2 separate regions of the Homo sapiens genome follow, and region 2 is linked to region 1. Evidence: fine-mapped expression QTL. A gene starts in region 1. The other region holds a variant in brackets. All regions are shown on one strand. Distances are from middle to middle. Region 1 holds the start of DNAJC13 (DnaJ heat shock protein family (Hsp40) member C13). Region 2 overlaps DNAJC13 (DnaJ heat shock protein family (Hsp40) member C13).

Region 1 (5,383 bases):
AGTTGAGAAACACTGACTCAAGGAACTCTTTCAAAATATTAATAACTCCCCTTTAACTACTGCCATGTTTTACAGTGAACATTTAGGCCAAAACCTATTTGTAGCAACCAAATTTGTGCTGCAGTTTATCTGCACAGCCTTGTTTCAATTACTAATTTAAAGTACCTCAATCAGAAGCAGGGGAAAGGTATGTGTAGCAGAAACCTCATATTCACCTGTGTAAACAGAACTGGTTGAGGAATGAAGCCAAATTAGTTAAAACACATCTTTTCAATTTCAACCCTAATTTGGGACCTATTGAGAACCGGACTCCACTATCAACCTTTTAACAAATTTAATAAAGCCAGTATTGTTACAGTCCACCTGGGCAAGGCAACCATCTTCTATTTATTTGTGGATAAAGTTAAATTATTCCAAACAATTCATTCACTTATTAATATTTTATTTTTTAGCTTAAGTATTTTGTTTACAACTAAGCTTGTTAACAATATATAACATTAATATATTTTAGACTATTTATTACTACCACTTTAGAAAAAGAGGAATATTCATTGCCTCTCAGTGGAATACAAATGCTGATATTTTCCATGAACTGAACTCTAGCCTTAAGGTTCTTTACATTCTTATTTCTTAATAATCCTCTGACTCCTCTTTTCCTCCCTTAATATGTTCTACTTCCTGTTTTCAAACAAGGAGTATAATGTAATAATTTCTACACAAGGACGTGTGTTGCCTGAATGCATTGTGATACTAACAGCACAAGCCAAGTCTGAGATATAGTAGCTTAAAAAGCGTTTCACATTACACAAAATGTGAACAAGGTTTTACGTTATATGATAGATAAGCCAATAAAGTACTTTCCAAAAATCAAAGAACTGTGTTCTGGATACCGAATTTCTGACAAGTGGTTTCTATAAATTTATTTTTTTAAGGCAAATTCTGTTTCATACTCCCATAAACTCAAAGTACTGGTAATATATTATAAAACCTTATCACTGTAATTTTCCCTGCAGGCAGTAGTTTCAAACCTAGAAACCTATCAAGTCCATAAACTGAGAAAGAAAATATAGTAAGAAAGAATTACTGGGGGCAGGTTCTGAACTTCTACTTTTTTCCCCAAGACACTGTATTACAAAAGGCTCAACATAACTGTACACTATAAAGCCCTTCATAGAGGACGCAACAGCATCAGGTACAGAACCTCCTTTTTGAGGGAAATCAGAATAACGTAAAAGGGAAAAGCAGAGGGAAAATGAGAAATAATTACTTTGGGAGACCACCGCCACATTAGGGTGAAATCTTTACTTTTTTCCCCCCTCTAAGCAACGGACACAGGAAACAATCTTAAGACAAACGTGGTTAACGGAACACGCTACAAAAGGAGAAAATTTAAGGGAAGGCACTCTTAAACATAGTTAAGTATCAAGTGATTAACAGCCACTTCACTGAGCGTCTAAGTCCTACTTTACCCACTCCAAAGGCCACATTCAAAGATAAAATCACAGCAGCGGAGGAAAGGCCACGTGAATAAGCTGCCTTGCAGGAAGGAAAAGCCTTAGGGGAGAAAATGATTTTAGAAAAAGTACTGGAGAACAGACGACGCGGATGCTCATTTCCTAACAAAACGAAACAAAGCAAAGAAAGTCAGTCTGCAGGACTTGTTCGGAAGGAGGGTCGCTGACCCAAGGAAACAAGAGTTGCCGGCATCCAGCAGGAAGGGTGCTCAGACTAGGAGACTGGAAGGGAATCCCGAGGGCGGAACCCACAAGGGAATGAAGAGCCTGTGGGGTAAGGATATGTTAAGGCGAGTGGAGGAGCGTACTAGGTATAAAACAAGCAAAAAAAAGGGGTGGGGCTGGACAGGGCAGCGCCCTGAGCTAATGTCACTCAAAGCCGGGGGGGCGTCCAACGAAAGGAACCAGACCAGCAGCCTGGGGGAAGGGTAATCTGCTTCCTTAGCAGCTGCAGGCTGCAGCAGCCAAGACCACCCCGTTTTCCCTGCCCTGAGCCCCACAAAGTCCCCACGGCGTGGGAAGGGAGTAAGGCAGAGCCCCAGAGCCCAGTGCCCGGAGTCGGCTTTACCTTCGCGGGAGGCTGGAGAGGCTCCAGCCCTAGCTCCTCCCGCCGCCGGCTCAGCTTCCAGAGTGGGATGAGGCGCCCTCCGGCCTCCTCACCCTCACCACTTCCCCTTTCCCCCGCCGGGGCCCTGCAGCTCCGCTGCCGCGGGTTCCTGGTGCCGCCGCGGCGCTGCCTCCCCGCCCCCTCCGCCTCCTCCCTCTGCCTCTCAGAGTTTCACTCTGGAGGCCGCCATCTTCGCTCAGGCTTTGAGCGAGCGCGCTCTAATACGCCTGCGTCGCCACCGCCCAGGCTGTCACGAGACCCAGTCAGCTGATTTCAACTCTTCCGTCTTCTGCCCCGCCCTCCCCGTCCTCCCCGTCCCGATCGTTCTTTCCCTGAAATTCTGCTTTCCTCCGGCCAGCCCCCAGCAGCTACACATGCGCAGAGTAACGACACCGGCCGTGGGATTTGGATTCCACGCAGCGCGTCAGGGGGCTGGCGCCTCGGTGGGTGCTGAAAAGGACACGCCCCTGGGCGCGCGCGGGTGCCCATGACCACGCCCCTCCGGCGGGTGCCCATGACCACGCCCCTCCGGCGTGTGCCTTAGGGCCGCGCCCCTCCGCTTATGTCCTGCGGAGAGTAGGGTCGCAACCCGGTACTTAAGCTTTAAGTCCGAGGAAATCTTGTTTTAAATCACCTCTTTTTAGCTCTTGCCGTCAAGTGCCATGGAGCATCTGCGAGGCAGTCTGAAGCCTCAGCCTATCTCCTGGTTTGGCTGGATTGGGAGCCAGCAGGTTCATTTACTATTGAGACGTCCTGAACGACAGCAGAGCAGGGTTTAAGTTATGGATGCTCTGGAAGGTCTCAGAGACCAAATTCTCAGAGACGCCTAAGGCATTTGCAGGTGGGAATGCTGGAAAGATAGTTCTGGTAGCCCCATTTATTGTGTCCGGATCAAGTGTTTAGAAGTTTACTTAAAGCTGCTTAATCTTCAACTCTCTGAGATACGAATCATCCTCGTTTTGCAGATAAGTTGAGGCCCAGCCTCAGAGTAGTGGATTTCATGTTTGCACCCAAGTAATTTGAACCCAGAACCTGTGCCCTCTAGATAACCATCTTCCTGAACCTCACCTGAGAGGGAAGTCAGGGCAGTGAAAAGAGGGGATATTGGGACTAAAGGATTCGGCTAGAAATTATGTGTTATCTGTGGGCAATGGTTTAAATAAGAAAGGTCAATGTCCACTCCCAGATCTGAGCCGTAAAGACCACAGTTTAAAAATTAGTGATTAAAAAAAAAATAGTGATTCTGCTGCAGACTTCAGAGTAGAGGCAGTGTAGGGTGACCTGCATGGATACATTATTGTATAAGGGTTAAAGGTCTCTGATAAGGAGTTGAATACTCATTCTTCATGGCAGTCCTGAAATTGTGATTTCTTGGCGTCCCCTTCAGCAAGTTGGCTCATTTTATAGACAGCGATTGCAGGATGAAAAAATGTGGAAAAATGGTTTTTACAGACTTTACCTCTTGATTCTATTAACCCTTTGCCCTACCTTAGGGCGGAAAAAGACTATTTGTGTTTATCCTTAGACTTTTCTGTAATGCAGCAGTAAGATAAGGTGCATGTAAGGGAAGGTACTAGGAATAGCTGGGTGTGGGAAGACAGAACCCGAAATAGAGTAGGAAGGGAGGAGGAGGAAAAAGAAACAGGAGGGCTGTGTTAAGGGGCCTTATTGGCTTATCCCATGGAAACAGAAACGTGTTTATGTGGTTACAAAGCCTTCCAGTAATCCCAAAAGTAAATGTGGGGTATATTATTTCGATTTTAGAGAAGCAGCAGACCCAGAGAGTCCAGGAGACTTGCTAAAGGTGACCTAACTCCTAAAGGTTGAGCCAAGATTAAGACACAGGGCCTGCCTGTAACATCAAGGCCAGTGAACTGTTCAACCTCCACACTGCCTCTCTGTTCAATATTTGAGACCAATAAAATCAATTCTCGTGTTGAGAGGAGCCTTAGGCATCATGAATTGTCCCCATCCTCTGTAGTGCAAAATTGCCTCACAAGACATCTTTTTCCATTGCATTTTTATAAGCCATTTTCCTTGTATTCAGCCAACTTGCACTCTCTTCTATGAGTAGTTATTTTGTCTTTGTTTCTTGCTCTTTTCTTCTTGTATGTGACATTCATTTAAGCACTTATCAGTACAGCTTATCACCCTTTCCCACTCCCTCTCCCGTGCATATCCTTCTAACTACCCCTGCTACAGATACTCATTTTAAGAAACCATATTCAAAGTACTTTCAACCATTGTTCACAAGATGTAGTTTCAAGCCTTTTCACAACCACTGGTTGCTTTTAATTGGATCCATACAATTGGATCCTTCTTAAAATGCCACAACAAAATACAAGAGTCAGGGAGAGTAGGACTTGTCTCTTCTTTCCCTATTAGGTTAAATCAGTTGGATCCTTTCCCCACCCAACTCTTTTTTAAGAGTGACAAATGCACACTTCTTTTTCTGGATTTGTCTTTTTATTCATAATTAAAGTTTGCACTAGCGTTTCTGACACTTTCATAGTGCAGATGTATCAAATTTACAATCTAAATTATGTGATGTACACTTAAAATATTTCACAGCTTTTTAAAAAATACATTTCACAGCCTTTTAGGCACCAATAGCCTTTATCAGTCTCCAAAGTTAGCATACAAGGCTGGAGTGATCTAAGACTTTAGAGAGCCCACAAGAATGTCAAACACTTGCTTATCTAATTCCCATTGCTGCTAAATTGACCTTCCTAATTATATCAATGCCCAGATCCAAAGTAAATCCTTAAGAACTCATACCACTCAACAATGCTTGAACTATGTTTTCAGTACAGTAGCCACTAGCCCTATGTGGCTACTGAACACAGAATAAAAATTAAAATTGTTACAAAAAAATGTAAAATGTTGCATTAGCAATTTTTATATTGATTACACGTGTTAAAAGAAAAAAATATTTAGGCCGGGCACGGTGGCTCACGCCTGTAGTCCCAGCACTTTGGGAGGCTGAGGCGGGTGGATCACCTGAGGTCAGGAGTTTGAGACCAGCTTGGCCAACATGATGAAACCCCGTCTCTACTAAATATAAAAAAATTAGGCGGGCCTGGTGGTGCATACCTGTAATCCCAGCTATTCGGGATGCTGAGGCAGGAGAATCACTTGAACCTGGGAGGGGGAGGTTGCAGTGAGCCGAGATGGTGCCACTGCACTCCAGCCTGGGCAACAAGAGTGAAACTCTCAAAAAAAAAAAAAGTATTATTTAATGATACTTGTTAAAGCTTGGTAA
Region 2 (5,383 bases), 48 kb before region 1:
CATCTCAATTCATACTCAACCACTGCCAAACCCATTATAGATAGAAGAATGCATTACTGAATCAGGTTCTGTAGAACACACTGCATGCTGAAGAATGAGACTAAAACTGTTTTAGATCTAACTTTGATTTGAGAAACAAATATTACAAAATTTAAGTACGCACAATAAATTGAATTTAAAATGTGAATCTTAATCTCCAAAACACTTGTCTGGCTAGTTCTGAATAAAAAGGCTAACAGGAAGAGCACCTTTATTTTTATAGGTGCAAAACAAAGTCCAGAGAAGAAGGGAAGAAAATAAATACATATGAATAAAAAAGAACAAAAACTGGAATGGAAGAAAAATTAAGAGTGGAATTCTATATTAAATACCAAAATAAAAACCTAATCATCAACTCATAAAACTATGAACTAAGGAAAATGTATACAAAAATATGAATTAGAAATTAGGTACCATTCGGCCGGGTGCGGTGGCTCACGCCTGTAATCCCAGCACTTTGGGAGGCTGAGGCAGGCGGATCACGAGGTCAGGAGATTGAGACCATCCTGGCTAACACGGTGAAACCCCATCTCTACTAAAAATACAAAAAATTAGCCGGGCGTGGTGGCGGGTGCCTGTAGTCCCAGCTACTCGGGAGGCTGAGGCAGGAGAATGGCGTGAACCCAGGAGGCGGAGCTTGCAGTGAGACGAGATCGCTCCACTGCACTCCAGCCTGTGCAACAGAGCAAGGCTCTGTCTCAAAATAAATAAATAAATAAAATAAAAAAGAAAGAAATTAGGTACCATTCATTTTTAAGCTTCAGGTATTCAGCAAGAAATGTATCGATACCATCTCTGTGAACAGCAGGAACTAAAGTAGACTAGGACACACAGAAGTGCCAGGAATTTGGAAGCAAATTTTATTTTTACCTCTTTTTGAGCAATGCCCATCCTATCCCTCCAGTGCATCAATACAAGATCCACTTTTTCTTTGGCAAATTTTTCAACTTCTTTAGCAGCTTTTCCAGCTAGTCTTTGCCACTCTGGAACTTTATTAAATTTTCCATACTGATCCTGTAAAATAATGTTGGAATCCATTACATGCCTGTTTGCAAATTTATTTTAAAACTCTATGTAAAGCTGAGTCATTCTATCTATTTTATAAGGTTAATGCTGGATGTTATGGTTCAGTGAAGAAACAAACTGAAAACTTCTACAATTATACTTTTTATCCAAGAAACTAACTTTTCTACTTAGGTTTCAAGATGATTCTTTTATGAGGGGTGGCAAGATGCAAGTGGGAGCTGGGTGCAGACAGAGAAGGAGTGATGACAGAAAAAGAATACACGTAAGAAATTATTATAGTAGTGTATCATAAAGATGTTTAATTTTTCCATGGATGGCCCAACCTTATAATTAACATAGATCTTGTAAGGAAAAAAACCCTACCTATAACTTTTTTCATGGTTGGCCGTTTTTACCAACAACATTTATCAATCTCATATGTGCAAAATACCATATTTACACACTTACTGGTACTCCAGAACGTACCAATAAGTTGAATTAGAGAAACAAAACACAGAATAAAATGACCACTATTCATAACATTAATTTGTGGTGATAGCTGCACAACTCTGTAAATATACCACAAATTATTTAATTGTATACCTTAAAAAGATGAATATTATGGGATGTAAATTTTACCTCAATAAAGATATCAATAGTTAAGTATACTATTCAATGCAATGAATTCTTTGTTTCTAAAATTTTTAACGTGTTTCAAAAAAAGACATATATATAACAGTACCCTTACTCCTAAAAAAGGCACACTTGGGACAGTCATATTTACCATTGCTATTTTCACATTGTCTCTAACATGCATCCGATCAGCATCCTTCTCAGGTACGAGATCTGAGCTTTCCAAGTATGCCAGCAAGCCTGGCGGCTAAAAACACAAAATCCATTTTCAAAACAATGTGAAAAAGAAAATTTAGCCTTAAAAACCCAAATAAATTAATACTGTGGCTTAGCTATTGAGGGTAAAACTTTACGGTAACTCCTATGATAAATAACTTTTCAATAAAAAACAAACCATCCCCTTTTAACAGTACAGATAACTTGTTCAATTAAATTTTATTAGGCAGTATATAACCTAATTTCTCAACTGACTTACCAAAATGCGTTTCAACAAGTTTGTTGCAGTTGCATTATCAGCTGTCCAGAGTCCCACTAAATGTCTACTTAGCTGTCTGAAAAAAGCAGACGTTGAGAAAGGTTTGCTGCTTTATCTCAGCTAGAACAGAAAGGAATTTTTAAGAACAAAATATCACATAATTATAAAAAATACGGCTACAGTAAAAAAATCATTCCGATGTTAAAAATAGTTATTAAAAAATTTAATGTGGAGAGTTATAATTCAAATATTACTAATATTTTGGAATTTTCTAAAAATTAAAATGTTTTCCTAATAAACATACACTCATTTTCAATAAACCCGAACAGGAAAAAAGTAGGTTTTTATCCCACTTAAAGGAAGAAAAAAAACAACAAAAACAATTAGA[T/C]TTGATGACACAATTAATTTGTTTAACCAGTCCTACTAATATAGTGACAATGGCATCCTGGCATTTTTTGGAATTCTGAACAAGCAGAAGTCAACAACTGTTCTAATATAACCGTTTTGGCAAGATCAGAGAGAAAATTATTTTCACTTCTAGAGTTTGGGCAAAGACCTAAACCACTTATAGCAAATTATTCAACTCATCTCACTTAAAAGCTATAAAAGTATATTTTAATTCAAAGTAAAAATCTAAGATCCAAGTTCAATCTATGGTTTAGTCATTTACTAATTTTAATCCCCATTCAACACCTGTCACCTTAACTGAAAGCTCCTCATAAGTAGAAACCCTATTTTACCCACCAGTGACCCTTCTGTGCTTTGGTGGGGATTCAATTACCATAGCTATAAGAATGGTCATGAAACCTATGAGGGAAATATCCAAATAACCACCCACAAACATATGTTTTATATATGTTACATTACTGAAGAACAAAATTTAACTGCAAAACCCAAAATATACTTTGTCACCAGAAAGTGAACGCCACTAAAACTGTTCATTCCTGTGCCAATTTGAAAGCTAACATATTGAAGTAATTAAACTTGTAATTTCCTTCACTGGCATTTGGTAGGTTATCATATCAGTGACTCCTAAAAAGGCTTTAGTTAGGGACAAAAGAGATAACATTTTATAACAGCAATTTGTAAAAGATAAAGCAATGCAAATAGAGTGATATTTCTATTATACATTGACAGATCTTTAACAGTGTAATTCAAATATTACTAACCTTTTGGAATTTTCTCCAAATTAAAATGCTTCCCTAATACACTAATTGATCACAGTAGGGAATTTAACTGGTTAACTATACTGAAGAGAAACACAACAAGCAAGCATTTAACATGGGGAGGGGTTAATGGAATAAGCTATCAATAGTCTCTAATGAAAGATGGTGTCTAGCACTGCTAATAAGACAATACTAGGAAAACATCCTTATTATCTTTATCCTCTAAGACTAGTTTTGTTCTTAACACAAGTGAGGGAGGTAGTTTCTTCTAATAGTATAAACAGTAAAAAAAAAATCCCTGGCAAGGCAGCATACCATGATGTATAATAACTGCACATAGATGACAAAGAAAATGTACAGTATTGTAACAAACTAAACGTTTAACTCAGCAACTTATGCTATTATTTAAAAAGTCAAAAAATAAAATTAAAACTATTTATGATACTGTTTTTACTAATATGAGTCATAATATAGTATGCTTAAGATAGCTGAAAGGGTCACATGTTAGAAACCACAAAGAGGGTTAAAAAGGGCTGGAATTCATGTAGTGTGGAATAAGTGAATAAATTTATGTGTTTATATTTGAATGACTATCAGGAAAAAGGGAATCATTTAATTACAAGAGATTTAGGTTAAGTCTAGCTTAGGCTGGATATGTAAGGTTTTCTGTGGTTTTTAAAGTAGAGTATTTGACCAAAGATATTTAAAAATCAACTATGTGAGGTTTTCCCATGGGGTCATGTGCATGCAAGATGGTCACAGGGATATAAGGAGAAAAGACCTGAGCATGTGGTTCTAGTTCCATAAGCTTTTAAGTACCCTTTTCCATATTGGTCCCATGACTATGGTGTCAGGGCCTGATAATAGGTCGGGGAAAAAAAGTAAACAGTGTTTCCCTCCAGGTTTTCCATAGGCAGGGACAGTGATCACTTGGGCAAAATCCTTCTGTAAGGAAAGGAAAAGAACTAGGTGGATCAAAAGAAAATGTATTATTTGTGTAATACAAACACATTTAGTTTTATGTAACATCTGAATCAATTCTCTAGACAGGAAGTTAAATTGCAGCAAATTGAATTAAATCACCTACCTATTTGTAAGCATCCTTTGATCTGAGCTTATTGTAAACATCGCAGTATGCAAGTGTCGAGGTAAGGCACCTTCACTTAGGGCAAGCTCCTGCATTTTTGTAGCAATTTCTTTATCACCTTCCTTTGGAAAAAGGGTAAGATGATCCCTAAGGTGGCAATCCAGGACAAGCTATCCAAACTTTAAAAAACTAATTTTACATATTTAAATGAAAAAAACATTCAGTATGTAATAGAAGTTTTTAAAATGCATCTTCTAATCACCCAAAAAAAAATAGGTGAGTAGTAGCACAGGTAATTTTTAAACCTTTGGAATAAGGTTGAGATGTTTCCAGACAAATTTACCTCATAAACTATGCTTTGCTAAACTTAATATTAAAACTAGGTTCACTCCCTCTGTGTATAGCTGCCAACAAAAAGGAGAGGCTTGGCTATCGCAAGCTCTGTAAAAGATGGGCACTTTGGAAGCTAACATTGAGCAAAGAACCCATTAGCTAAAGGGAGAAAATTAGCCTTTGGCTGTATATGCACACTAAAAATGCAAATAAACTTTGATGTTCCATTCAGTTCAATGCCTATATATATTTACAGCTACTTAAGGGCATACTAATTCTGTGATTAATTGTGTGCTATACTTATGCACAATAAATGAATTTTTTGGTAAAAGGAGACTTTCTTCAATTGTATTCAAATTGCTTCTATGACAACAAAATACAAGAATTCAAAAGCCATTTAGACTGATGTCATTGTAATCATCATAGTATGCAACAGACATTCATAGCTACAACCTTTTAAAAAATATAGAAGCATAAAGCAACTATCTTAAAGAAGCAGTATCTTCGACAAGATCATGCTCCAATCTCTAGAGCTCAATTACAAATATGCTTTATCAAGAACTTTTTGTTGCCTTTCTTACTTGGTATCATTTTGGTATGAACTAACTCCATCAATAGATTTCTATACAAGCTCAGTATCTCAAG

Evidence for each region. PIP is the estimated chance that this variant, and not a neighbour inherited with it, causes the effect.
Region 2: its variant is fine-mapped to the expression of DNAJC13 in whole blood (TOPMed, PIP 0.96).

What each region holds. Positions count from the first base shown.
Region 1 is chr3:132,414,460-132,419,842 of GRCh38, reverse strand. It overlaps DNAJC13 (DnaJ heat shock protein family (Hsp40) member C13), which reads right to left and starts at 2,341. Exons shown (of 56, transcript NM_015268.4): 1 at 2,083-2,341. RefSeq lists enhancers at 1,477-2,012, 1,952-2,101 and silencers at 2,132-2,271, 2,552-2,651.
Region 2 is chr3:132,462,840-132,468,222 of GRCh38, reverse strand. It overlaps DNAJC13 (DnaJ heat shock protein family (Hsp40) member C13), which reads right to left. Exons shown (of 56, transcript NM_015268.4): 17 at 4,406-4,527; 18 at 2,153-2,228; 19 at 1,829-1,924; 20 at 910-1,053. Among named protein-coding and RNA genes, the nearest start is that of DNAJC13, 48 kb to the right of the region's middle. The variant T/C (reference allele first, on the strand shown) is at 2,541.